Homo sapiens: one gene and its partners. The protein of the gene in region 3 purifies or fractionates together with the protein of the main gene of each other region. This does not show direct contact. Each region holds a gene or a part of one and is shown on either strand. Other genes may lie near its edges.

Region 1 (7,028 bases), on a different chromosome or scaffold from region 3:
ATTTAAGTATCTAGGGTAAAGTGTAACAGATTCTTTACTACGGTGATTTTTGAAGGGACATTAATGTTATCTATATGTTTGTAGTATGGGGTGTATCTATCATATTAATAGTTTTATTATCTTAATATAAACGTAGATGTTTTTCAGAAGTAACTGTTTTAGAATCTTAGTTTAATAAGATAATTTTATACATTAATTTGTTATATGTAGTGGTTTATCTTGTTCATTTGGTCTTTTAACAAACATTTTAAGAGCAGGATAGCCAACCTTCATATGAAATACTTGTTGAAATATATTTTAATTTCAACCTTTTAAATTCTTCAGGGTTTTTTTTTTTTTTTTTTTTTTAGAACTGAGCAAAATTGTAAGCTCCTGGCTCTTGTTTTGCCCCAGGACTATAATACTACTTTCAGTGTTTTCCTTTTTCTTCAAAATATTTAATAATCAGTGTTCACTGACATTTTATTACATTCTATAAGATTACTCAATATTTATTAAGTACTTGATATTTATTTGCATAATATTAACATTTTAAAAATTAACTTTTGTTTTTGAAACAATTGTAGTCTTCCAGAAAAATTACAAAACTAGTAAGAGTTGCCTTTTGCCCTTTACCCACCTTCTTCAGCTGTTAATATCTTAGCAAGTACAATGATCAAAACCAGAAAATTAACACTAATACGGTAATACTGTATTAACTAATCTATACACCTTATTCAAATTTTATTTATTCAAATTATATGCAGTGGTTATTATTAGTGTCCTACTAGTATTCTTTTTCTCATCCAAGATCACACGTTGCATTTAGTGGTCTCTTCCAATCTGGGTGAGTTCCTCAGTCTTTAGTCAGTGTCAAAGTAATGAAAAACAATCTTGTTATCTCTCAAATTGGGTGTTTCTGCTGCTTTTTCATGATTAAATTCAGATTATGTATTTTCGGCAAGAATATCATAGAAATGATGTTTTGCCCTTGTTAGTGCATCGTACCAGGAGGTACATGGTGTTCGTATGTCTCATTAATTATAGCGTTAACTCGGCTAGGTCACCAGGAATTTTACCAACTGTTGCTTTTGTACCAGCAATGTGATGCCAGTATGAAAAAGATAACTTGTATCTTACATATTATTGTGAAAATACTTTTGACTTCATGAAGTCCCTCAAAGGGTCTTGAGGATTTCCCTAGAGGTTGAAGAATAACACTTTAAAAGTCACTGCCCTGGAGAGAATCTCTATTTGAGCACATAGAAGCTTGTATAAGAATGTTCACAGCAGTTACTATGGTTTTGAGATAAATAAAATTTAAAAAAGAATGTTCACAGCAGTGTTGCATGTAAAAACAGAAAATTGGAAAAAACTTAAATGTACCTTAGCAGGAGACTGGATAAGTTGTATGAATTTGTATAGTGCAGTACTGTATAGAAGAGAATGTTAAGCAAATAAAGTAAGTTGCAAAAGAAAACCTACGGTCTGTTAAAGTGCGGAACAAAACTATTTTAGGGTAGGGTTTTGCAGCCTTGGCACTATTGACATTTTGAATTGGATAGGATAATTTTTTGTTATAGGAATGTCCTGTGCATTGTAGGCAGGCATCCCTGGCCTCTACCCATTAGCAGCAGTAGCACCCCACCTCCTTGTGGCAACCCACAATATCTCCAGACATTGCCAGATGTCCCCTAGTGGGGGCAAAATTGCTCCCAATTGAGACTCATTGGTTTAGGGATATGTACATGCGTGGTAAAAGTATGCCACGTAAAGGTAAGATAAACACTAAATTTAAGAGAGTGGGACATCCTTATGGTGAAGGGAGTGGAGAGCACGATTGGTGGAAGTACACCAGGGGCATTTAAGTATTTTGGTAATGTTCTGTGATTAAACCTACCCCATGGTGAGTGCATAGGTGTTAAACACACACACACACACACACACACACACACACACAAAATTTTATTTTTTTTGAGACAGTCTCCCTCTGTGGTCCAGGCTGGAATGCAGTGGTGTGACCTCGGCTCACTGCAACCTCCGTCCCCCAGGTTCAAGCAATTCTCCTGTCTCATCCTCCTGAGTAGCTGGAATTACAGGCATGCACCACCACACCTGACTAACTTTTGTATTTTTGGTAGAGACGGGGTTTCACCATGTTGGCCAGGCTGGTCTCGAACACCTGACCTCAAGTGATCCATAGCCTCAGCCTCCCAAAGTGCTGGGATTACAAGTGTGAGCCACCACACCCAGCCCTTTCTATATTTTTGTGTGTGTCATATTTTTGTACTTAATTTAAAAAAAAGCCTTATATTTATCAGAGGGAGAACTGAGGTTGCCTTTGATTATTCATCATTTGTTCCCTAGTTCCACCTATATTATATGAATAGAAAATTTATTGCAGTATGATTGGGAATTAAGAAATGGGTAACCTTCAGCATAAGATTCCTTGCAACTTTTCTGGGAGTTAAGGATTCTGGAGTGGTTGGATCATTGTGAATCTTTCTGATACGATTTTTCTCACTACATTTTGAAGATTTTGTCTGGGAGTTGTATGCGGGTCTCTAATATTTTGGCATATCAGCTTTATTTTTTCTTTCAGGACACACATGATATGTTTGAATTTATGGTCTAGGATAGTTAAACTTTGCAGAGAGGAGCATTTAGTATCTGTTTGAGTGATATAACGTCTGTCTTGTTTCGAGATTCATTTGGCTCATTTGTAGTGAGCAAGAAGATTTTGGGACTATATGGGATGTTATTTAATTAGTTTGGACTAATTTTGTAAAGTCTGTAGTCAAGTAGGTATAGTTGACTTTTTATCATCTAGGCACTGATTTTATAGGAGTTGGAGAAAAATGTGTTTTTATTTATGCTTGCTTTGTGTTCACTTGACTACAGTGTTGTATTGTTACCAGAGATAATGGAGAAAATGAATGTAGATTTCCTGTTAAGGTTCTGTCATTCTTCGTGTCGATAATACAGAGTTAGAGGTATAGAAAATCAGCTTTATTCAAAACCAGCTTCTGGTCATAGTTCATTCAAACTGTTTTGGGGGTAGTTCTTTGTCCTTGTCTTTGACCGCTAGCAAAGAATGCCTCTCCAGTCATACGTGGAAAAACTTCTCAGATGTTTTGTATTCAGTTGAAGGTTTAAAAGGGCTGACCCTGGATTAAAAAAATGAAATGAATTAATAATCCTCAGCTTTTCTTTATCAGAATAGAGTCCCCTATTCTGATCTGTTTCTAGAACCACAGTAGAAAGGGGTATTTGTCAGGACACAAAGCCGTAGGAAAAAACAGGATTTGAGGGAACAATGTTTGGGGAGCAGGATGCCACACCTGGAAAGGATGAAATATCACAAAATGTTTTTTATTAATGACATCTGCAAGGAAAACTTTATTTCCTCATAGATCCTACCTATTTTAAAGGCTTCTGTAAAATGTCTTTCTTATTTTATTTCCTCCACTAAAACAATGTTGTAAATTATGAAAGTCTATCTAGTTCTTAATAGTCCCTGTAGATTGCAGCTTGGTTGAGCTGAGGACTTCAAGAAATCAACTAGTAGACCCCTGTGTCAGTACTTCTCAAACTTAAAGCACACAGATCACCTGGGGACCTTTTAAAATGCAGATTCTGGTTCAGTAAGTTTGGGATTCTGCGAGAGTATTTCTAATAAGCTCATAGGTGATGCAGATACTGCAGGCTCAAGGACACACTTTGAATAGCAGAGTACTAAGTGACTATTTGTCTACTTGAGATGCCCTGCGTTTCTGTTTTCTCCTTTTCCTTTCAACAGATTCCAAGCCTTGATTGTTTGTTGGTAATACATGTCTTTAAAACTAGATTGGCATTATTAGTTGGGGAGAAGAGAAGTGTGTACAACTGAAATAAAGGAGCATGTAACACCTTTCTAATATATGTACTTTTTGTAAGTGTAATGCTATCTTAATGTGTATTTTCGATCCTATACTTTCCAGCCTGTCCCTCTGATTAGATTAGCTATTTCTTTTTGAATGTGTTCCCAGGTAGCCACCCACCAGGGTCTCTCCTCCACCCTCTATAATTGCTAGCTAGTGTGATATCCCCACATGTGTGCTTTCATCTGTTAAAGCAGGGTATGCTGTGTTGTAATTGTCTTTTGCACTAGATTATTAGTTTAAGGGAAAGGGTCTGTGTTATTCTTGTATCTCCATTTTCTAGCAGAACCATGTCTCTGGATGAGTATTTTCTGAATCAGACACACTTTTCAAAGAGCTTTTGACTCATTGGATCAGAGATTAGATAGATATTATCCTAAAACAAGATAAAAGGAAACTCAGATTCAGAGAGATTAAGAAATTTGTCCAGTCACAAAGCTGGTGAGTGGCAGATAGTAGGGATGAATGCCAGTTGATTGCTTTTCCTCAGTATCATTCTCTTTTTCTTTTATAGTATAGTGGTTCAGAAACATGACCACCTGTAACACTTTGCTTGTGGGAAAATTGATAATGAAATGTAAACCAATTTAGAAATGAAACTTTGTGATACATCCTGTTGTAAATTGTTCAGTGCTCTTTTCAAAACCATTCTTTTTTTGCTTTGCTTTGCTTTTCTTCCTCTCTCCCTCCCTCCCTCCCTCTCTCCCCCCTCCCTCTCTCCCCCCTCCCTCTCTCCCTCTCTCCCTCTTTCCCCCCTTCTCCCTTTCTCTTCTTTCTTTCTGGAGTTTCACTCTTGTCCCCCAGGCCAGAGTGCAGTGGTGCAGTCTTGGCTCACTGCAACCTCTGCCTCCTGGGCTCAAGCCATCTTCCCACCTCAGCCTTTTGAGTAGCTGGGACTACAGGTGCGCACCACCATGCACAGCTAATTTGTGTATTTTTTTGTAGAGATAGGGTCCTGCCGTGTTGCCCAGGTTGGTCTTGAACTTGTGAGGTCAAGTGATCCATCTGCCTTGGCCTCCCAAAGTGCTGGGATTACAGCTGTGAGCCATCATGCCCAGCCTTTTTTTTTTTTTTTTTTTTTTTAAAGAGTTTCACTCTGTTGCCCAGGCTGGAGAGCAGTGGTGTGATTATAGCTCATTGCAACCTCGAATTCTTGGGCTCAGGTGATCCGCCTACCTCAGCCTCCCGAGTAGCTAGGACTATAGGTGCACACCACCAAGCCTGGCTAATTTTTTTTTATTTTTTATTTTTCTTAGAGTTGAGGTCTTGCTGTATCACCCAGGCTGGTCTCAAACTCTTGGCCTCAAGTGATCCTTCAACCTCAGCATCCCAGATTGCCTGGATTACAGGCATGAGCCACTGAGCCCTGCTTGTTTCTTTCTAGTGTGTCTTTTTTGCACAGCTAAGGTTTTACTGTATACATAGTTTGTTTCATTCTTTTTTTTCCACTTGACGTGTGTTTTCTGTATTCCTTATAAATAATCTAATATGTACTTCCTATATGGTAAAATAAGGTGACATTTATGTCTTAACTACTTAGAGAGAAATATATATGTATTTCCATATAGGTATGCCATATGTACTGTTCTTCAGCTTTCTTTTTAAATGAATATTGTCTTGGACATCTTGCAGTGTTAGCACATAAGAATCTGTCTTATTCTTTTTGGTCGGTACATAGTATTTAATAGTTAAAAAATATATTACTTAACTATTCTTTTGATAGACATTTATAGTGTTTTCTTTTTTGTCATTTTAAACAACACTGCAACAAGTATCTTTGTGTATACATACCTTTGTGTACTAATTTTTAGCTTTTAAATTAATTTGTTACAGGAATTTCTGTTATAAATGACATGGCTAAATATTGTCCTCACTGACTTTGAGAACATTTGTCTTTTAATAGAGGAATTTAACTTGTTCATATGTATTGTGACAACTGATACATTTTTTCTAATTACTGCTACCTTACTCTTTTTTTTTTTTTTTTGAAATGGAGTTTTCCTTTTATTGCCCAGGCTGGAGTACAATGGCGCGATCTTGGCTCATCAAAACCTCTGCCTCCCAGGTTCAAGTGGTTCTCCTGCCTCAGCCTCCCAAGTAGCTGAGATTACAGGCATGCCCCACCATTCCCGGCTAATTTTTTGTATTTTCAGTAGAGACCGTGTTTCCCCATGTTGGTCAGGCTGGTCTCGAACTCCCGACCTCAGGTGATCCACCCACCTCAGCTTTCCAAAGTGCTGGGATTACAGGCATGAGCCATCACACCTGGCTGCTACCTTACTTTTTAACTTTCCAGTTTTCTTGTATTTTTTTTTTTAACCAGTGAGTTAGAAATTTTATCACCTTTTTTTCTGCTCTGCTAATTATTACCTTTTAATATTTAACAAACAGATTGAAAAATTAGGTTTTTTTTGCATGTAGAAAAACTAAACAGTCTCTTTAATTACTCCTGCCCATACTTCTTTCTTTATTTTTTTGAGGTGGAGTCTCACTCTGTTGCCCAGGCTGGAGTGCAATGGCATGATCTCAGCTCACTGCAACCTCTACCTCCTGGGTGCAAGCAATTCTCCTACTGGGTGCAAGCGATTCTCCTACCTCAGCCTCCTGAGTAGCTGGGATTACAGGCGGGTGCCACCATGTCCAGCTAATTTTTGTATTTTATTTTTATTTTTTTTGAGACGGAGTCTCGCTCTGTCGTCCAGGCTAGAGTGCAGTGGCAAGATCTCAGTTCACTGCAAGCTCCGCCTCTCGGGTTCATGCCATTCTGCTGCCTCAGCCTCCTGAGTAGCTGGGATTACAGGCGCATGCCACCATGCCCCGCTAACTTTTCATATTTTTAGTAGAGACGGGGTTTCACCGTGTTAGCCATGATGGTCTCCATCTCCTGATCTTGTGATCCGCCCGCCTCGGCCTCCCAAAGTGCTGGGATTACAGGCGTAAGCCACCACGCTCGGCCTAATTTTTTGTATTTTTAGTAGAGATGGGGTTTCACCATGTTGGCCAGACTGGTCTGGAACTCCTGACCTCAGGTGATCCACCCGCCTCAGCCTCCCAAAGTCCTGCGATTACAGGCGTGAGCCACTGCGCCCGGCCATCTCCTGCCCCACACCTCTTACCTTTTTCATTGTG
Region 2 (7,028 bases), on a different chromosome or scaffold from region 3:
ATTAAGTGAACTGTATTGCCTTCATTTTCTCTGCCACCATTTCCTTTGTTTTCTTTCTTTTTTTTTTTGAGATGGAGTTTTGCTCTTGTTGCCCAGGCTGGAGTGCAATGGGGCGATCTCGGCTCACTGCAACCTCCGCTTCCTGGGTTCAAGCAAGTCTCCTGCCTCAGCCTCCCGAGTAACTGGGATTGCAGGCATGTGCCACCATGCCCAGCTAACTTTGTGTTTTTAATAGAGATGGGTTTTCTCTATGTTGGTCAGGCTGGTCTTGAACTCCCGACTTCAAGTGATCCACCTGTCTCAGCTTCCCAAAGTGCTGGGATTGGAGGTGTGAGCCACCACGCCTGGCTCTCTGCCACCATTTTCAAGAGTATTGCCATCTGCCTGAGCAAACCTGGTTCATCACCACCTCTTTGCAAGAGAAAAAGGAAGTCGGGAGAATTGTGTGTAATTTTTTTTTTTTTGAGATGAAGTCTCGCTCTTGTCCCCCAGGCTGTAGTACGATGGCCCGATCTTGGCTCACTGCAACCCCTGCCTCCTGGGTGAAAGCAGTTCTCCTGCCTTGGCCCCCTGAGTAGCTGGGATTATAGGTGCCTGCCACCACGCCCGGCTAATTTTTGTATTTTTAGTAGAGATGGGGTTTCACCATGTTGGCCAGGCTGGCCTAGAACACCTGACCTCAGGTGATCCACCCACCTCGGTCGGCTGTGTGTATTTTAAGGCAAAGATTCACAACCAAAAACAAGGCTTTATTAACTTTTGTATCTAAGAACCTGCAGTGTCGAGCCCTCTTTTATTCCTAGTATTACTACTTTAGGTGTGAACTTTTTATCTTTATTTTACTGATTCCTCTAGAAGTTTATGCATTTTCTTGACTGCTTTAAAGACAATCTATATTGTATCATTTTTCAAGCCCGTAGAAATGTGTAAGGCCTATAATTTGAACACTTGTTATTTTTAAGGTTATGAGCATGTAATATACCATTGATACATGGAAGAATATGTATAAATACCACTAGATAGGTTATATTGAAGAGATAATATCTAAATTTTTGTCCAGAGTTGATGGGGTGCAGTTTTGTAGGTGTGTTTCTCAATACATTGTGTCCATGTTTTAAAGCATATAGAAATTTGAATACTGTTTAACCTCATATAGTCCTTGTTTATAGGTTTAATATTTCTAAAGACTAAAGACGTCACAGCTCCCTTTAAGATTCAGTAATACTAATAAAATTTGAGATATACAGGGTTAGAGTCCAACAAATTCAAAGGAAAATTGTTGAATTATATAGCCGTAGAGCAGGAATGAAACCCAGGTTCTAAGTTCCAAGGGGGCCATGAGCTACCATACAGGTGCATCAGTGACTGGGCATAGAGTTGGCAAAATTATTTAAGAGAGTGAGCTGTGGATCCTAATTATGTGAACATGAATTTTTGAACTGCATGGTGCCTCAGTTTATCCATCATTACAGTGGGGACAGTAGTAAGTTTTTCTTTTTCTGCTCAGTTGTCTGAATTATTACCCCAGTCTCTCTTGTTGCCACTCTTGATGCCCACATGAGAGGATCTAAGGTAATTTCTGACAACCTGGGACTCCTTAAGGAAAAACAGAAGGTTCCACAAACCCCATTTTAGGAGAAACCTCTGTTTTCCTCATGGAACCCCAAGAACTTTAAGCAGACAGGTCCCTCTCAAAAATCTAAGGCTCTCCTCTGTTTTGCCTTGCGTTGTCTGACCTTTTTGGTTTGGATGGGCATCAGAAATTAGTAGGGGAGAGAGATCTAAAGAAAATTGTGGATATGAAGATGTATTTATTATAAGAAATGTTATGAAGGAAAGAAATGTTATATGAGAGAGGATCTTATATGGCAAATTGTTGTCCTAAAGTAGAATGACTAATTACAAAAGAGGGAAATACAGGACAGGTCAGATAAATTTAATCATGTCGTAGATAGTCTGTGGAAGTTGTGTTATGGTTCATAAAGTGGGAAAGAAAAACTGAACAACTGCTAGATCTTTTCTTGTCTAGAAGTGTTGTGTATGTGATGTATATATAATGGCTCGGCTTAAAAGAAAATGAAAGCTCTTAAATATTTTGTAAGAAAAATAGAAGCTCTAATGCCTTTTATTTCATGTGACTTCAGTAATCTTTGGGAAATAAAGATGGTGTTAAAGTCAGTGGTAAAATAAAAATATCTTCAAAATTTATCCATTTGGTCTAATTTAAGTCAGAGGTTAAGTTTTAGAAGTGCTTTAATGTCATAAATTGATGCTTTGACTTTGGAAAATAGTTTTGTTTACCTGGTTTGGAGCCGTTAGATTTCTAGGTAAGGTCTCCGGACAGGTGGAGTTAGCCATGTCTCCTAGCTATGCTGGAAGGAGTCAGATTTTATCTGCAGTTCTGTCTTGTATCCTAGACTCTGCACCTGGTATGCAATTAAAACTTACTGCTGCTGCTAATCTCTGGGTTCCATTTAAAATCCTTCCATCACATGAATACTATCCCCTGTACTAAATTTTTCCACAATTAAATACTTAGAATCATTTTTGCTGACTTGACCCAACCATTAGTGATATATTTTAAAAATGCTTATAATGTGTCACAATATATTTAGCAAATGTAGGGAATGACATTTTTACTTTCTTCAGCATTTACATAGCATTTATGTAGCAATGCTATCTCAAGTATTTTTAATCATTTAAACGTTAGATAATAGATATGTTTTTGATTCCTTTTTTCTATGTAAATAAATATAATTATGAGATATTTAGTAAATAGTATCAATTGCATATGTCACTTACAGAATATACAATGCAATTAGGATTATTTTTATACACTACATCATATTTACTTGTTGGCTTTACAATAACTTAGAAATAGTATTCTGGATTAACTGTGTGACTCATGAGAGAGGGAGTTTGTGCAATTATAGTCTTTACAAATTTTTACTAGATTTTTCAAGACTTACGCTAGAACTTTGAGAACAAGGTAATAAATAAGCATATCTGTTAATATCACCTTTGGTCAACTCTTGGCTAGACCCAATGATAATGTAGGAATTAACATAATTTTTCTACTAAAGGTGTTGGATTTGTTCCGAGAGACCACAGTTCAAAGTCATTGACAAAGAAAGTTTAAAAATTGTTAGATTAAAACCTTTTAGTGTGTTTGAAATTGTTTTGTAGAAAAATATCCTGGTTTGCATTGATAGGTTTTTTTTTAAATAACAACTAGACCAAGAGAAAGGGAGAGTAGTGATAAATGTCCATGTTTTCGAGTTGAAAAGTAACAATCAGTGTATTACAACAGATGGATTTGATGTCAAATTACAAATGCTGAGAACGTTATATGTAACTGACTTGCCAGAGTAATTATACAAGGCAAAGAAAGGAAAGGCATCTAAATAGGAAGGGAAGGGGTGAGATTGTCTGTGTTTTAGACTCCACAAAAAACCCATTACAGCTGATAAACACTATATTCAATAAAGTTGAGAGTTACAAAATTAACATTGGTTTCCATACACCAATGACAAACTGTTATCTGAAAAATAAGGTAATTCCATTTATAATAGCAACAAAACAAATATATAAGTAAATCAAAGAGCAAGGAGTAATTTTAATGAAGGATGTGAACGATTTGTATACTGAAAATTATAGCACATTGATGAAAGAAATTGAAAGTGACAAATAGAAAAAGTCCTATATTTGTCAACTGAAAAAATTAATATTGTCAAAATTTCAATGCTACTCAAAGCATTCTACAGATTAAATGCAACCGCTGTCAAATTCCAATGTCATTCTTCACAGAAATAGAAAAATTAGTCCTAAAATCTGAATGGAACCACAAAAGATGCTGAAAAACCAAAGCAATCTTTAGCAAAAAGAACAAACCTGGAGGCATCAGACTACCTAATCTTTGACAAAGCAAACAAGAAAATGGGAAAGGACACCCTATTCAACATATGCTGCTGGTATAATTGGCAAGCCACATGCAGAAAAATGAAGCCGTTCTTCAAAGGTTAAATACAGAATTACCACATGACTCAGTAAATTCACTCCTATGTATACACCAAAAATAAATTAAAACAAATGCCTTACACATAAAGGTATTTATAGCAACAAAAAGTAGGAAACAACAGAAATGTCCATGAATTTTGGAGTGGATTAATAAAATGTGGTCTGTCCATAAAATAAAATATTACTTGGCAATGAAAAAGAAAAACATATTAATACATGCTCCAAAAAGGATGAACATTGAAAACATGATAAATGAAAGTAGTAAGTCACACGTAACTATATTATTATGATTCCACTTACATGAAATGTCCAGAATAGGCAAATCCTTCCAGAATAGGCAAATTCTTAGGAAGTAGATGGATGATTGCCTAGGGCTGGGAGAGGTTTAAAGGAAGAATGGGGAAAATAGGGAAAGATTGCTAATGGGTGCAAAGTTTCTTTTAAGGAGCATAAAAATGTTCTAAAATCGTGGTGATTGTTTAACTAGTTAATACACTTAAAAAACTGAATTTTATACTTTAAATGAGTGAATTAAATAATATATAAATTGTATCTCAATGAACCTGTGAAAAAAGTTAAAAAATATGTGGTATGCATAAACAAAAAGTTCTTCATTTTATTTCCTAGGGTTTTGGGGAAAAGGTGGTGTTTGATTATATGAGTAAGTTCTTTAGAGGTGATTCAGGAGATTTTGGTGCACCCAACACCTGTGCAGTATACACTGTATACACTGCACCGGGGCAGGAGCTGGCTGCAATCCTGTGGCCCCAAATGCCCCCTTGCTGATGGCCTCGTGTTCTGGGTGCGGAGCAAAGAGGAGCAGGTGTTGAAGGCACCTCAGGCAGGCCCTGGGCTCGGTGGGCGTCTTGTGCTCCGCGATTTTGAGGCCATTTGCAGCCAGCTCCGTCAGCCCGAGCTCCCAGCTGCAGCTGCTGCCATGCACAACAGCACCGCCAGGAGTGTCCTGGGGGCTTTTTTCAAAGGAGGCTGTCAGCATCCTCAAGTTCCAGACGCTTAGCCCCAGTCCTCCTTTAAGAGGCTTTTTTTTTTTTCACCAGAGGCTTCTCAGTGGCTTGAAAGCTCAGCTGACTCCCACGAAGTTTGCCGGAACTCAAGGCTGTCAGTGACATTCGTGGCGCCAAGACTTAAGCAGGCGCGTTGCATGCATCGGCCAGTGTCTGTGCCACGTGCCCTGACGCCACCTGAGATAAGCACGCCGCACGCCGCACGCCGCACGCGCACGCCGCACGCGCACGCGCACGCCCGGCAGCAGCTTGCTGGCTTGTAACGGCTTGCACGCGCACGCCGCACGCGCATAACGGTTTGGCCGGCCTGTAACGGCTTGCACGCGCACGCCGCACGCGCGTAACGGCTTGGCTGGCCTGTAATGGCTTGCACGCGCATGCTGCACGCGCTTTAACGGCTTGGCTGGCCTGTAGCGGCTTGGCTTGGCTTTGCGTTCTTGGCTTGGCTTGGCGTTGGTAGCTTGGATTGACGTTTCCTGCTTGGATTGACGTTTTCTCTCTCGTGTTCCTTTGCTGGGCTTGACCTTTTCTCTGCTGGGTTTGGCATTCCCTTGGGTGGGCTGGGTGTTTTCTTGGGGGCGGGGGTTGGCCCTTTCTGGGGTTGGCCCTTTCTGGGGTGGGCGTGGGGTCGCCCAGGGGGGGCGTGGGCTTTCCTCGGGTGGGTGTGGGTTTTCCCTGGGTGGGGTGGGCTGGGCTGGAATCCCCTGCTGGGGTTGGCAGGTTTTGGCTGGGATTGACATTTCTCTTCAAACAGATTGGAAACCCGGAGTTACCTGCTAGTTGGTGAAACTGGTTGGTAGACGCGATCTGTTGGCTACTACTGGCTTCTCCTGGCTGTTAAAAGCAGATGGTGGTTGAGGTTGATTCCATGCCGGCTGCCTCTTCTGTGAAGAAGCCATTTGGTCTCAGGAGCAAGATGGGCAAGTGGTGCTGCCGTTGCTTCCCCTGCTACAGGGAGAGCGGCAAGAGCAACGTGGGCACTTCTGGAGACCACGACGACTCTGCTATGAAGACACTCAGGAGCAAGATGGGCAAGTGGTGCCACCACTGCTTCCCCTGCTGCAGGGGGAGTGGCAAGAGCAACGTGGGCGCTTCTGGAGACCACGACGACTCTGCTATGAAGACACTCAGGAACAAGATGGGGAAGTGGTGCTGCCACTGCTTCCCCTGCTGCAGGGGGAGCGGCAAGAGCAAGGTGGGCGCTTGGGGAGACTACGATGACAGCGCCTTCATGGAGCCCAGGTACCACGTCCGTGGAGAAGATCTGGACAAGCTCCACAGAGCTGCCTGGTGGGGTAAAGTCCCCAGAAAGGATCTCATCGTCATGCTCAGGGACACTGACGTGAACAAGAAGGACAAGCAAAAGAGGTAACCAGGCCTGGGCTGGGAGGAGGTGGGACGTGGGGGGATGATGGGGACATACCCTCCTGGCGGGGGAGGAGGGGGACCTGGCTTTCTCGCCTCCGCAGGCCTCACACCACCCTGGATGTGGAAACCTCAGAGAGGTCAGGGTACAGGGCCCTTTATGAACAGCAACACAAAAACAAAACTTTAGCTGATTTCCAATCATAATTTCCCTCATAGAACACTAATAGACTGTTTTAAAGTGATTTAACTTGCAAAATTAATTAAGTCAATGCAGCAGATTATTTTTAATCTACAGATTTTAAAACAATGTTCTATACATTATAGAAAAGTGTATATTGAGAACTAAGAACAAAGCCCCATAACACATCAACTTCAGGGCTAAATATTCTTCAAATAAAATCCAGTATGGATTTTATATCAATGTACAGTATGTAAATATGTTCTTTACTGAGGAACCTTAGAAGGAAACTGAAATGGGAAGATGGTTCCTGTGCTTGAACAGGAAGATTGAATTTTCTTAAGATGTGAGCTTTTTGGCTGGGCGCGGTGGCTCACGCCTGTAATCCCAGCACTTTGGGAGGCGGGCGGATCACGAGGTCAGGAGATCGAGACCATCCT
Region 3 (7,028 bases):
AAACTGGAATGAAACTAAGTAAAGGAAACTAAGTACAAAATTCCTGTAAAGGAAACAAAGTACAAAATTCTAGATTTTTGTGATTATTTTCCCCCAATCTTTTATAATTGTCTCATCTATACAAGATAACAATTTTCCCCAGAGCACCAAAATTTATGTAGACACAAAACAAAACAGGTTTCGGAATAAATACAATTAACATATGATAATCATACAATTTCACTGGTAGGATAGTAAATAGATAACTGAAATAGATAAACTGAAAATGTTGAAATTATTACAGATTCTGTAGAGCAAGAGTTGAGAAACTACAGCCCATCAGCCAAATGTGACCTACTGCCTTTTTCTTTGTAAATACACTTTTATTGGAACACAGCCATGCCGTTCATTTATGTATTATCTATGGCTACTTTTGTGCTACAAAGGCAAAGTTAGGTATGGCCTGCAGAGCCTGAAATATTTTCTATGTGACCCTTTACAGAAAAAGTTCACTGACCCCTCCTTCAGAGGAATAAAGAATACTGATTAATTTACTAATTAATTAACTTGGGGGTCAATTAAAAATTTTCTCTCTATATAAAGACCAACTTTTGGCTGGGTTTGAAGAAATGAACAATAAGCTATATTGTTATAAACCTATACCTCAAATGCTGATAACAAAGGCAACTATTCATTTTTTAGCTACTAGTTCTTGCTATAGGGCTGATTCTAATGTATACATACATGAACACGGCATTTTCCACTAACTAATTCTGTCAGACTTCACCAATGCTCAATCACTATCTTTAAATACTGGTGGTGGGGGCCAGGCGCGGTGGCTCATGCCTGTAATCTCAGCACTTTGGGAGGCCGAGTGGGGCAGATCATGAGGTCAGGAGATCGAGACCATCCTGGTTAACATGGTGAAACCCCATCTCTACTAAAAATACAAAAAAAAAAAAAATTAGCCAGCATGGTGGCGGGCGCCTGTAGTCCCAGCTACTCGGGAGGCTGAGGCAGGAGAATGGCGTGAACTCGGGAGGCAGAGCTTGCAGTGAGCCGAGATTGCGCCATTGCACTCCAGCCTGGACGACAGAGCAAGACTCCGTCTCAAAAAAAAAAAAAAAAAATACTGGTAGTGGGGAACCAGTAGCTTTCTTTTTCTTTTTTTAAATGCCAATACATTCCTGATACATTTTTCATTTACCTGTGTTCCTGTTCTTTCAATGCAAGAAGTTGATGAAGTTGTTGCGCTTGTTCTCTTTCTCGATGAAGGGAAGTTCTAAGTAAGTATATTTCTCTATCGGCAGCTGAAGCTTTGAGTTCCACCTCTTGGATCAGTCTTATCTGAGTAAAATACCCACAATTACATTATTTAGATAATAGTCTCCCCTGCTATTTTAATGTCAGTTTCCATAAGTACCTTTTAAATGACAGTGTCCGGTGACTAAGTTGATTTTCAAACTTTAATAAATTAATGATGTTACAGTCACACAAAGTGCAGCCTTGGAAGGAACAAATACACTAGCATTAACTATTGCTTATTTGCATCACAGATTTTAATGATAATTTCCATTCAGAAAGCATGAAAATGAAATTCCTTCAATCACCTGAAAGCCTTTTAAAAAGCCAGCTCTCTCAGAATAAAAGCCTAACCACCTGCAACATTTCCATCAACTTTTCTTTTTAATTGCTTTGTGTTAAGAGCTAGTAGTCTTAATTTAGACATAATTCAACAGGCTATGTGACCGTTAAATTAACAGCAATTTAATTTTTGCATATGGCCTTACATCTTTTAGGTTTTCTAGGTAGTATAATTTGTTTCACGATAGAAGCTATGAATTTGTGTTAATCTGTGCTACTCATATATTAAAATAGAGAAATACCTGTGCTGCCTGCTGCTGCCTTTTTTGTCTCTCCATTTTTTCTAATGTTTTTTCGAGGGTTCTTAAGTGTTTAAGGTGATCCTCTTGTTGATCTTTTGCTTTCATTAGTTCAACAGTCAGTTTTTTAATTTCATTTTGAAGTTTGTGAACCATAACTTCGAGTTGTCCTTTGGAATTTCTCTCTCTAAAAATAATTTCCTTTAGCCTAAAGCAGAAGTTATATGTGGTGTTAAGTATATTACACATATAAAAATGATAAAATTGTTGACTTCAATGAGAGTACTCTCTGAACTGGTCTTCCTTTGTTCATGCTCTCAACTCCTGTTTGATATGCTATATGAAAGCGTGCTAGACTGTATATGGGTAGGGGCAGGGAAAGCCACAGAGAAACAGAAATGGAACAATCATCTAAGCAACAGTTAAGGGCCTAAAGAAAGGTAACAGTTTTGGGATACAGAGGAGATAGTTCAACATCTTTTAAGATGATATCAATATCAATTGATGAATAAAAGTATCAATAAAGATGGTAATATCAACTGGTTGTGGGATAGGAGAAAGAGAAAGGAAGCAAAAAACAAAGATTCCTAGATTTCTATAGTTTTGGTGACTGACTGGATGCTGGATGGGGCACCATTTATTAGGGCAAGAAATATAAAATAAGGAAGAAGAATGAATCCACCTGAGGCCATGGTGATCTTAAGAAACTTATGAGGAATACAGGCAAGGCATTTTTAGTAGATAATTAGATGAACAGATCTGGTCATCAAGGAGGTTTGGATAATAAAGATACCATAGTAGGTAAGATTCATTTTTTGAAATTGTATATACTCACAGCATGGCACCCACATGCCAGACCCTGCATTAGGGATACAGAGTCCCTACCAAGGCACATAAGGGAACAGGGAGATTGGTAAGGATCTAATCTCAAACAAACATGTGGTGGTGGGGGGGGTGGGGGGGTGGCACAGATAAAAGAAGAATCAGAAAAGATTGATTTTTCATGAGAAAAATGAATACATAACTTGGGAAACACGGGCACAACAATAGGTTAAGTAAGAAGAAAGATAAAGTGTGCCCAAAGTCTTCCAGTTTAAATGGACTTTGGCTAGCAGCCCTAGACACAGCGTCCTCTAATATCCCACTAAATACCTAGAATACAGAATAAAGTAAAAATTCATACACATATAACTGAAAACAAAGGATAAGAGAATGCCAAAATTTGGGAATAATTTCAATTACAAGGCAAATGGAACTAAATTGAAATTAAAAACAACTCCTACAACACTCAGGCTTTGCCTCATGAAACTGCTCCATTCTGAAAAAAGGAAGACATATCTTTTCTCTTCTACTATCTGTCCATGACTCAGTCACAAGATCTCTATAAATCTGTCACTACATAATGTTGGTTACTCATGCACTTACTGAAAGCAGGAGTGCTGTTTTTCTGAGGTAGTCAGAGCACTCTTAATTGAGACATCCTGTTCCCTCATCCATACCCAGTAGCTTCTTGTGTCAATTCAGACAGACATTTATAAAACACAAATAAGGCAGGAAGTTGGTGGGTAGTGGTAGAAGGGCTAGTGATAACATAACGCATCACAGCTTTATAATTATAGAGGTTCTCATAGCATGCATGTTGCGTATTAGAATTGTCCTTATACTCCACAGGTACAACCTATCAGAGAAACATGCAGTGGGGTAGAAAACACCACGTCAGTATCACAAAAGTGCCTAAAAGAAATCGGGAACTGGGCTGTGAACTGTGTACATCAACTTATCCAAATCAGATTTTAGAAGGGGAATTATCCACTGCACAATCAGACAAGAAATGGAACCAAGAGCAACTTCCCAAAGTGTGTTAGCAAATGTCAAGTCTAAAAACCTAGTGCTCATTCAAGGGTAAGAAACCATAAGAAACTCTAAACATGTTATAATCATTTGAGGAAAAGCATGACGTTAGAAATAATTACAGGAAACAGAAGAAAAAAAGTTATTGTAATTTAAAAAACTGGTATTTTCACAGAATGAAATGACAGACCTGTATTAAAGAATGCAATACAACAAAACAAAACAAAACAAAAAACCCAGATAAAATGGGAGACGTAATGGTGAGGATAGAATAAAAACATCAGAATTAAGAAACTGGGCTATATGATACAAAAGCCCATTGCAGAAGATAAGTATGTGATGAGATCAAATATGACCCATGAAGCTTAAAGAAAAAGGCTGCCAATGCCTGCCCTTTACAGAATCTGGCACTTTACATAAAGTTTGTTAATCACTGCTCTAGTCTCTTGCTGTTCTTTACTTATAATATTTATCTGACACCTTCCTGCTTGAGGGCTCAAATACATGTACCTGAATTTCTTGTTGATATAACAAGCTAATAAAGTGCTAAATTGTCTAATAAAATTAGTTCAAATCAAACTAAAACCACATACATTGTTGTTGATTGAACCACACTGAAACTAATGTATTCCAGTTCTAAAGTCAGTATTGTTTATGCTATGAGGTATCTTCAGGTTTATTAATTTCTTTTTACCTATCTGTGGTAAGTAGAGCCAGACTATGAATATCCTCTTTTTCATTTGCATGTTTATGCAGCTCATCAATATAATCCATGAGTTTATTTTCGGCTTGCTCAGCTCTCCATCTCTTCTCTCTCTCTTGGTCTAGCTGTTCAACAAGGGACTGAAAGAAAACAACAAAGTTATGTGAACTTAGAAAAGTTACCTAACTTCTCACAGCCTCAATTTTCCCATTTATAACAGGGGAATAATAGTACCTACTTCAAAGAGCTACAGTGAAACTTTTTATTTTATTTTTTTGAGTCTCACTCTGCCACCCAGGCTGGAGTGGAGTGGCATGATCTCAGCTCACTGCAAACTCCACCTCCTGGATTCCAGCAATTCTTCTGCCTCAGCTTTCCGAGTAGATGGGACTACAGGCATGTGCCACCAAGCTTGGCTGTTTTTTTGTATTTTTAGTAGAGATGGGGTTTCACCACGTTGGCCAGGCTGGTCTCGAACTCCTGACCTCAAGTGATCCACCCACCTCGGCCTCCCAAAGTGTTGGGATTACAGGTGTGAGCCACTGCGCCGGGCCAAAAATTATGTTACTGGTAGCAAAGCATGTAGGTAAGTGCAGAACAGTGCCTGCTACATAATAACCAATCAATAAATGTTAGCTGCTATTATTATGCCATAGTAGATAAGATTCCTTTTTTGAAATAGTATATACTCATAGCATGGCACCCACATGCCAGACTCTGTATTAAGGAAACAGAGTCCTTACCAAGGCACGCAAGGGAATATAAAGATTGGTAAGGATCTAATCTCGAACAAACTTGGGGCGGGGGTTGAATCAGAAAAGATTGATTTTTCATGAGAAAAATGAATATGTAACTTGGGAAACACAGGCACAATAGGTTAAGTAAGAAGAAAGATGAAGTGTGTCCAAAGTCATAATGATAATTATTATTTTTCAATATTAAAGCCTCTATAGTTGAGAATAAGGGGAGGAAACCAGTAGCCTAAAATGTACCAATTCTATTATTGAAAGAACAATACACAAGTAATATAAGGGGAAGTTAATGAAAAATATAAAATAATGAAACCACAAGTACTGAAGTTTCTCAACATGAGAAATGTTAAGCAAATTTTAAAGAATTAAAACATTTTTGAACACCTCTTTTTTTTTTTTTTTTTTTGACGGAGTCTCGCTCTGTCGCCCAGGCTGGAGTGCAGTGGCGGGATCTCGGCTCACTGCAAGCTCCGCCTCCCGGGTTCACGCCATTCTCCTGCCTCAGCCTCCCAAGTAGCTGGGACTACAGGCGCCCGCCACTACGCCCGGCTAATTTTTTGTATTTTTAGTAGAGACGGGGTTTCACCATTTTAGCCGGGATGGTCTCGATCTCCTGACCTCGTGATCCGCCCGCCTCGGCCTCCCAAAGTGCTGGGATTACAGGCGTGAGCCACCGCGCCCGGCCTTGAACACCTCTTAATCTGGGATCCAGTGGTCCAAAATTGAGTTTCAGGAAAGTCCATGAAAACCTTGAAATATATACATTTTTTTGAGTGTAAAAATAGGCTTCTTTGAGAAGACCTGTAAATTTTTTTAGATACTGAAAAGGGTCTGACACCCAAAAAAAGTAGGAAGCACTACCTTAAGGAATAAGAATTAAAAAATTCATAACTGTTTCTTCCTCCAGAAGCATGTAACAAATGATTTCACTTAAATCTGATCATAAAAAAATGTAATTTTCATTCGTTCAAAAATAACATTACATAAAATCTGGAAATCAGGAAGGAAAAAATAACCCATTTTCATCACTCCAATAAAATTCAAACACTTTTTGCTAATAAAAGCATGCATAATTTTTCTGGGACTCTGTATTTAAAATTATTCATACTCATTTTTTCTTTAACTCTTAAATCATACCTGGTAAGTGTTGTCTTCTGAGTGACTTTGGTCTACTTTAATTATTTCAGTCTTTGGCTTTTCTGATTCTTGTAACATAGGACAGTTTGCTAAAGATGAGCTTACATATAATTCTTTAAGGTAAGGTGGTTTCATTTTACGATTACAACTGTAAAGAATGAAACATAGAAAATAACTCAAAAAAGTAGTGTTCACATTACTTTTCTCTAAATTAACATTTCTAGTTGTATATGCAAACAGCTTTTTAAAAAGAATATTAATAAAATTATAGTAACTTGGACAAACTGCTTCATAAATTTTATAATGGGTGTGCTCTGTTGATTAATGAGTGCCTTAAGATTTTAAAAAAGATAATGATTTCATAAATGTTCAGGGTTCAACATTTTCAGGTAGGGTAGAATTCTTGGATATATCAGAATAATTTAAAAAGTACTGTGGTAAGATGATACCCAAGAACTTGAAAAGACAGTAAATAGAACTACTCTTTGAGAGTTAAAAGTTTAAAATCGACATACAATGGATCAAAGTTAATAGATTCTATCACTTGGTAGGACCAAAGAAATTCCAGGGTATGTCCTGGAAAAAAGTACAGTGTTTGAAGTGAACTGAATGCCTCTGTGTGTGTGGGTATATATACATGTAAAATGTAATTGGGTAGGTATGGAAGAATTAATCAACAACAAAACAACAAAATATGCTTTGCAAAAGGAGAATTACAGAGGC
Region 4 (7,028 bases), on a different chromosome or scaffold from region 3:
ACCTACATATATCTTGTGTCATGGTTTAGTCTAGTTCTTCTATTTTATTCCTTCTGCTATGGTTTCCTCACACTTGGAGAAACGGGATTTAATAATTAATCTCAGTGTGTCTAGAGATGGGGTTGGGTTGATGTCAACCTCAGGGAAGGCTGAGAAGGCCAAGCATCCAGCACCCCAGGCCAGACTGGCTTCTTCATACACCTTCCATGTATTGCCAGAGAAATAGCTTGGGCTCCCTTGAAGATGCATGAGAACCCAAAGAGAAGTCTGTGCCACAGCCATGTCAAGGTCTACGGTGATGAGACATGGGAGGCAAGGGTAAAGGTTAAAGTTATGCTACTAATTTGCAAATTGGTCTAAGGCAAAGGTTAAAAGTCTAGGGTAAAGGTTAAAGGGCAAATTGATCTAGGGTAAATGCTATCGGTCTGTGAATTGCTGAGAAATTCCTCAACTGAAAGTCCTTCCGCCCAGCTCCTTCTACCTAGCTCCACCTTCTTGGCCACATGTTGGGTTTTTTTAGCCTCCTACAAAACCATTTTCTATCTAAACAGACCCTTGCTTCCCAGTCGAAATGCCACCATCCACTTTCCTCCATACCCTTTATCTGAACATATACTTAGCTGATGAAAACCCTACTTTGTAAGGGTAAATTTGGGCAAATTTTTTCCTAAAATCTAATAGTAGACATCTAGTGTTTTTGGGGAAAGCTTGCTAACTTGCTTCTGTCCAATCAATTTTAAAACATTTTTAATATATGTATTTTATTTTCTAGTTGGATTCTTTCTCATAGTCTATTCTGTCTTAACATTACGCTTCTTCTTTAAGGTATTTTCAAATTAAATAGCAATCTTTCAGCACAGAGCAGGGTCTGTGGAAGGAGCACGAGATATGGAGACAGACCTACATTAGAATCCCTGACCCGCCTCCTTTCTATTGAGTTGTACTCTTGGATATGGTGCTTAATTTCTTTGAACCTTAGTCTGCTACATGTAAAATAGGGATAATATCTGGTATTGTGCGCATGTGGGAATTAGAGATAATATTTATAATATTTAACAAATACTATGCATTCAAATAAAAAATATTTCTAGGCTGGGTATGGTGGCTCACGTCTGTAATCCCAGCACTTTGGGAGGCCGAGGAGGGCAGATCACTTGAGGTCAGTAGTTCGAGACCAGCCTGGCCAACATGGTGAAAACCCATCTCTACTAAAAATACACAAAATAACTGGGCGTGGTGGTGGGCACCTGTAATCCCAGCTACTCGGGAGGCTGAGGCAGGATAATTGCTTGAACTTGGGAGGCAGAGGTTGCAGTGAGCTGAGATCACACCACTGCATTCCAGCCTGAGCAACAGAGAGAGACTCTGTTTCAAAAAAACACAAAACAAACAAAAGAACTATTTTTAGATAACCAAACATTTGTTCTTAAGCATGAATAATAGTTTTCAAGTGTGCTCCATGGAGTCTTCAGGCCTCCTTAAGGGGAAAGGGCAAAGGAGAGATTGACAGAATGATGTTCAGTCCCTTTTTATTACCACTTTGCCAGAACTGTCTCCCAGTTCAAGGATTCCTAGATTCTAGGAGCAAAGCCAAAGTTTAAGTGGTAAAGTCTAAGTGGCACCTCTGGTAATTCAAGTTTCCAATGCCAATATCTTCTCTTGGATAGGGGACTAGTTAGAAGTTAGGGCTTACCTTAAGAGAAGAATGACTTAGCAGGGCTGAACAATTTTCCTCCCCTCTGTGCCATTTTCAGCTTAAACAGCATAGTCCATTCACAAGCTAAAATAATAGCTAATAATTGTAGGTCACTTACAATGTATTAGGTCTTGTGCTGGGCATTTTACATATATTATCTCAATTCACACGAAAATCTACAGAGTAACGACTTTTACTGTCATCACTGTGCGAATGTGGAAATGATGACCTTGACCTTTCACCAGAGGTCATACAGCTCGTGATGGAGAAGCTCGACTTTTTACTGGCTCTTACCTACCTCGCTACCTTTAGAAGACAGTTATTAAAATCTTTATGTTTTGGTGCCTGCTTTTGAATCTATGCTACTTATGGTTCGATATTCACCTTCCACACAGTTGGTGGAAAAGAAGCAGATGTTTCGGGTCTCCAGAGGGTTCTCATGGGTGAAGTCAGGGGAGCGGCTCTGGGGTTCTGACTCCCCAGTCAAGGATGAGTTGTCCACCTGGGATGGGAGAGGGGACGCGTTGTAAGGTGAGCATAGGAAAAAAGGCAGATTTATTTACAAAAATAGTATGTCTTCATCTGGTCACCAACATCATCACTGACAGACTGAGAGAAACAAATTTACACATCTGTTGTCTCTAACATCAAATCTGCACTTGTAACTTCTCAAGATTCTGAGTAATAAGCTTATACTTTCTCTAACGGCCCAGGTGTCTACCCTGCCATGAGATCACGCTTGGGTCCCTCACATAGCTTTCGGCATCCCCTCACCTTACATCCTTGTGCAGAGATAAGCCGGAGGTCAGCAGGGACTCGGTCTCCACCCTTGATTTCCACCAGGTCTCCCAACACCACCTCTTGTACATTAATTTGCATCTTCTCTCCTCCTCGAATTACCAGAGCTTGCTATGAGAGGATAGTGCAGGATCATTTCCAAAACTTTTGGCTTTCCTCATCCCACTCTTAGCCTAAAACCTTCTGTTATTGGTCTCCCTCCTCCTTACTCCCCTTTCTTACTGTCACCCACCACATCATTCTTGAAGGTGTCTTTGGCAGATTGCAAATTCCCATGATGCTGTTTGCAGGGCCCTTTGCAATGTGACTTTGACGCTCTTCCCATTAAGAGGTGGAGTCTATCTCTCTACCCCTAAACCTGGGCTTGACCACGTGACTTGCTTTGGCCCATAGAATGAATGTGATGGAAAGAGGAGTTTAAAAAGTGCTTTCAGGCCGTGACTGGTGGCTCACACCTGTAATCCCAGCACACTGGGAGGCCGAGGTGGGAGGATTGCTTGAACCCAGGAGTTTAAGACCAGACTGGGCAACATAGGGAGACCCTGTCTCTACAAAAATTGAAAAAAAAATTAGCCAGGTGTGGTGGCATGCACCTGTAGTCCCAGCTGTTTGGGAGGCTAAAGTTGGAGGATCGCTTGAGCCCAGAAGGTTAAGGCTGCAGTGAGCCGTGATCACATCACTACGCTTCAGTCTGAGTGACAGAGTGAGACCCTGTCTCAAAAAATTAAAAAAAAAGTGCTTTCATGCTGGGGCTTGCATTCCTGTTTCTGAGAATCCTCTGCCACCCTATGAACAAGCCCAAGCTAACCTCTCTGTAAAAAGAGAGATCACGAAGAAAAAGGCCCCAGCTGTCCCAGTCATCTCAGCTAAGGGCCCAGACATGTGGATGAGGTCATCTAAGACCATCCAGCCCCAGCTGAGGAACAACAGCACAGCCACAGAATTATGAGAAACAGGAGCTTGCTATTTTAAGCCACTAAGTTTTAGGGTAGTTTGTTAGGTAGCAAAAGCTAACCGACCATGCCTAAACTCCTAGTCTCCAAAACTGCCCAAACACTTTGTCCCAAAACTCTTACCCAAGGAAGGAATTAAGTGATACCAAAAAGAGAAGGAAATCCTGGGCTATACTACTGGAACATGATCATATTATAGGGAAAATGTGGAGCCTATTCCTTTGCAAGTTTCCAGTCCCGTGCCTAGGAACCTCTGTTTACCGTCGTATTCTTTCCAGGTACCTTTAAAAAACATTTAACTTGAAAATAATTTTAAACTTTCAGAGAAGTTGCAAGAATAAAAATAGCACCAAGAACACCTATATAACCTTTATCCAGATTCACCTATTAACATTTCACCCCAGTTACTTTGTCATTTGTTTTCATCCTCTCTCTCTCTGTGTATACTCTTTTCCTGAACTACTTGAGGGTAAGTTACCTACATCATGATCTTTTATCTTAAAAACTTCATTGTGCATTTCCCAAGAATTAAGATATTGTCTTAAACAACCACAATGTAGTTATCAATTTCAGTAAGTTTCACATTGATACTTTAATCTACTGTATTAATCTGTCAGTATTCCAGTTTTGCCAATTGACCCAATACATCCTTTAACGCATTATCTTTGGTGGAGCTGGAGGACATTGTCCTAAGCAAACTAACAGGAACAGAAAGTCAAATACCTTATGTTCTCACTTATAACTGGAAGCTAAACACTGAGTACATATGGACACAAAGAAGGGGAAAAACAGACACCAAGGCCTACTTGAGGGTGGAGGGTGGGAGGAGCGTGAGGACAGAAAACCTACCTATCAGGTACTATGCTTATTACCTGGGTGATGAAATAATTCGTACACCAAATCCCTGTGACACACAGTTTACTTATATAACAAACCTGCACATGTATCCCCGAATCTAAAATAAAAGCTCAAAATAAAAAAGTAAAAATAAAGCATTACTTTCTCCTCTGGCACAGAATCAGATCTAGGGTTAGATATTGCATTTAGTTGCCACGTCCCTGTCTTTTTTTTGAGACAGCGTCTCTGTCTGTCACCAGGCTGGAGTGCAATGGCATGCAATCTCTGCCTTCCGTGCTCAAGCAATCCTCCTACCTCAGCCTCCTGAGTAGCTGGCACTACAGGCACGCTCAGCTAATTTTTAAATTTTTTTGTAGAGATAAGGTCTCACTATACTACTCAGGCTCGTCTTGAACTCCTGGACTCAAGTAGTGCTCTTGCCTCGGTCCCCCAAACGGTTGGGATTACAGGTGGGAGCCACCACCCTCGGAATAGTTGTCATGCCTCTTTAGCCTCTTTTTATTATTATTATTATTTTTTGAGACAGGGTCTTGCCCAGGTTGGTCACAGTTCACTGCAGACTTAAATTCCTGGGTTCAAGTAATCCTCCCGTCTCAGCTGCCTGTGTAGCTTGGACTACAGATGTAGACCAGCTATTTTATTTTATTTTATTTTTGTAGAGATAGCATCTCAAACTCCTGGGTGATCCTGTTGCCTCAGCCTCCCAGAGTGCTGGGATTACAGGCGTGAGCCACTATGCCTGGTCTGTTTAATCTGGAACATCCCCACAGCTGTTCTTTGTCTTTGAGGTCATCGATATTTGAAGAATCCAGCCACCCCCCACCGCACCCCGCTCCCACCCCCACCAACACTTGTCTCTTTAAAAAAATAGAATGTTCTTATTTGGGGTTTGTATGGTGTTTCCTCTTTAGATTCAGATTCTGCCTTCTAGATCAGAGCACTTCATAGGTGACGTTATGTCTTTCTCAGGGTTTCACAGCTTTTCCAGGTACTTTTAAGGACTGATACAGTACCTTGACCCCCTCATCACCAACCTCACTCAGCTCACTTATCATAGGATATAATTTTCCACGGGACTTCATCATTGTGTATTTGGCCACATCCTGCTCCTGCTCCCACTAGATCCTCCCACTCCAATCCTACCTGAGGCACCATGTTCTTAAAAGACTCCATGATCTTGGAGCTCTTGGCCTCCTGATAATAGGAGAAGCAGCCAGTGACGATGACCACGACGGACAGTACGATGCTCAGGTAGAGCTGAGGGTGGGGAAAGAAAGCGTTTATCAGTGGGACCTTGTCGTCTTCTTCATCCTCAGAAAATCAGTCTGCAAGGGGCACAGCAGTTTCACCAGGTGTAAGAGACCGTAAGACTGAGTTGAGAGCAGAGGGGTAGAGAAGAATCTGAGGTGGGACCAGTACACTTGGCTTCCTGGGGAAGGAACCCTGAGCCATGGTGAGCCGTCAGCAAAATTCCTGGTCAGAGAAGGCCTGTATCTTTCTCTCCAGGAAGGCTAATCTCTGGATGGAGGGGGTGGATTGTGAGGGAGGCTGGGAGGAAGGAGATGAGGTTAAAATTGTGGAGAAGAGAAAGGGACTGCAAAGTGCTTTGGGGATCAATTGGGAAGGTCATCAAAGAACAGCAAGTTTTTCGGGGACATTGTGCACCTCAGGGAACTGGACCAGAAGCTTTTTAGATTAAAAGGTGAGAGGAACCAAGATGGAACTTAGAAAGTGGAGTATTAGGGATTTTGGTTTATTACATTAATGTACATTTATTACATTATTATGTAATGTACATTTATTACATTAATGTACATTTAATTACATTTTATAATTAATTACATTCATTACAATGTAATTAATCAATTACATTGTAATTAATTACAATCAATTACATTTATAATTAATGTACATTTATTACATTATTACATTAATGTAATAATGTAATTAGGGATTTGGGCCAGAGGACTTCAGGAGTGCTAGGCTGCTGAGCAAAAGAGTGTCTGGGGCTAAGCAGAGATAGGGCTGGCTAGTAGTAGCTGAAGAGACTCACGTTGTCTTTGGTAGGCTCCTCATTGAAATATATCTGGATGCTGTAGGCCACAAAGCAGAGAATGGCCCCAGTCCATAGTAGGAGGGAGAAGCCTCCGAACAGTTGCTTACAGAATTTGACCCATTCTGGAGTGGTGGGGGGTGGGGTAACAGTATTGGGTCCACCTCGAGTCAGGATTTCCTTTGCCCTTTGGTGGCTATGGCCCTGTGCAGAGAAGAAATAGGGTTGGATAGAGAGCTGTGAAAAGAGGAACAGCCATAGCAAAAGGGAACCTGACATTTGGAGCCCCAGAATGGGTCTAGAGACTAAAGACGCTTTCAGAAGGTCAGTCTGGAAGTTCTTCCTGGATAAGGTGAGGTTTCAAAATTTGCATTAGAGGAGGGATGTCATTTAGCATGCTTACATAGGAAGGTTTTTGTTTATGGATTGATTCACAAACCTTTTTGAACTTGAGAACCTATCTCGGGTCCTAGGTGCTGAGGATACCAACATGAATAAGAATGGTCCCTACCCTTAAGGTGCTCCAGTGGGGAGATAAATACATACAGATAATTATAATGTGCAGGGCCAATGTCATGATGAAATATAATACTTAATGTTGATAACATATTAACACCACGCTTTGACTCTCCAACTTAGAGGGAATAAGATCTAGTGTTTGGTAGCACAA

The links.
Region 1: the proteins of LRRCC1 (region 3) and MIB1 purify together in Homo sapiens (affinity purification with mass spectrometry; 2 studies listed by BioGRID and IntAct, with this or other methods). This does not show direct contact.
Region 2: the proteins of LRRCC1 (region 3) and POTEE purify together in Homo sapiens (affinity purification with mass spectrometry; 2 studies listed by BioGRID and IntAct, with this or other methods). This does not show direct contact.
Region 4: the proteins of LRRCC1 (region 3) and ATP1A4 purify together in Homo sapiens (affinity purification with mass spectrometry; 2 studies listed by BioGRID and IntAct, with this or other methods). This does not show direct contact.

The regions. Positions count from the first base shown.
Region 1 is NC_000018.10:21,743,772-21,750,799, forward strand, and holds part of MIB1 (E3 ubiquitin-protein ligase MIB1), read left to right. Parts: intron 1-7,028. UniProt on the Homo sapiens protein: E3 ubiquitin-protein ligase that mediates ubiquitination of Delta receptors, which act as ligands of Notch proteins.
Region 2 is NC_000002.12:131,212,514-131,219,541, forward strand, and holds part of POTEE (POTE ankyrin domain family member E), read left to right. Parts: intron 1-5,075; 5' UTR 5,076-5,170; exon of another isoform or gene 5,171-5,796; 5' UTR 5,797-5,889; coding exon 5,890-6,410; intron 6,411-7,028.
Region 3 is NC_000008.11:85,124,217-85,131,244, reverse strand, and holds part of LRRCC1 (leucine-rich repeat and coiled-coil domain-containing protein 1), read right to left. Parts: intron 6,454-7,028; coding exon 6,306-6,453; intron 4,557-6,305; coding exon 4,408-4,556; intron 2,071-4,407; coding exon 1,866-2,070; intron 1,327-1,865; coding exon 1,187-1,326; intron 1-1,186. UniProt on the Homo sapiens protein: Required for the organization of the mitotic spindle. Maintains the structural integrity of centrosomes during mitosis.
Region 4 is NC_000001.11:160,154,579-160,161,606, reverse strand, and holds part of ATP1A4 (sodium/potassium-transporting ATPase subunit alpha-4), read right to left. Parts: intron 6,563-7,028; coding exon 6,359-6,562; intron 5,563-6,358; coding exon 5,449-5,562; intron 2,606-5,448; coding exon 2,471-2,605; intron 2,199-2,470; coding exon 2,081-2,198; intron 1-2,080. UniProt on the Homo sapiens protein: This is the catalytic component of the active enzyme, which catalyzes the hydrolysis of ATP coupled with the exchange of sodium and potassium ions across the plasma membrane.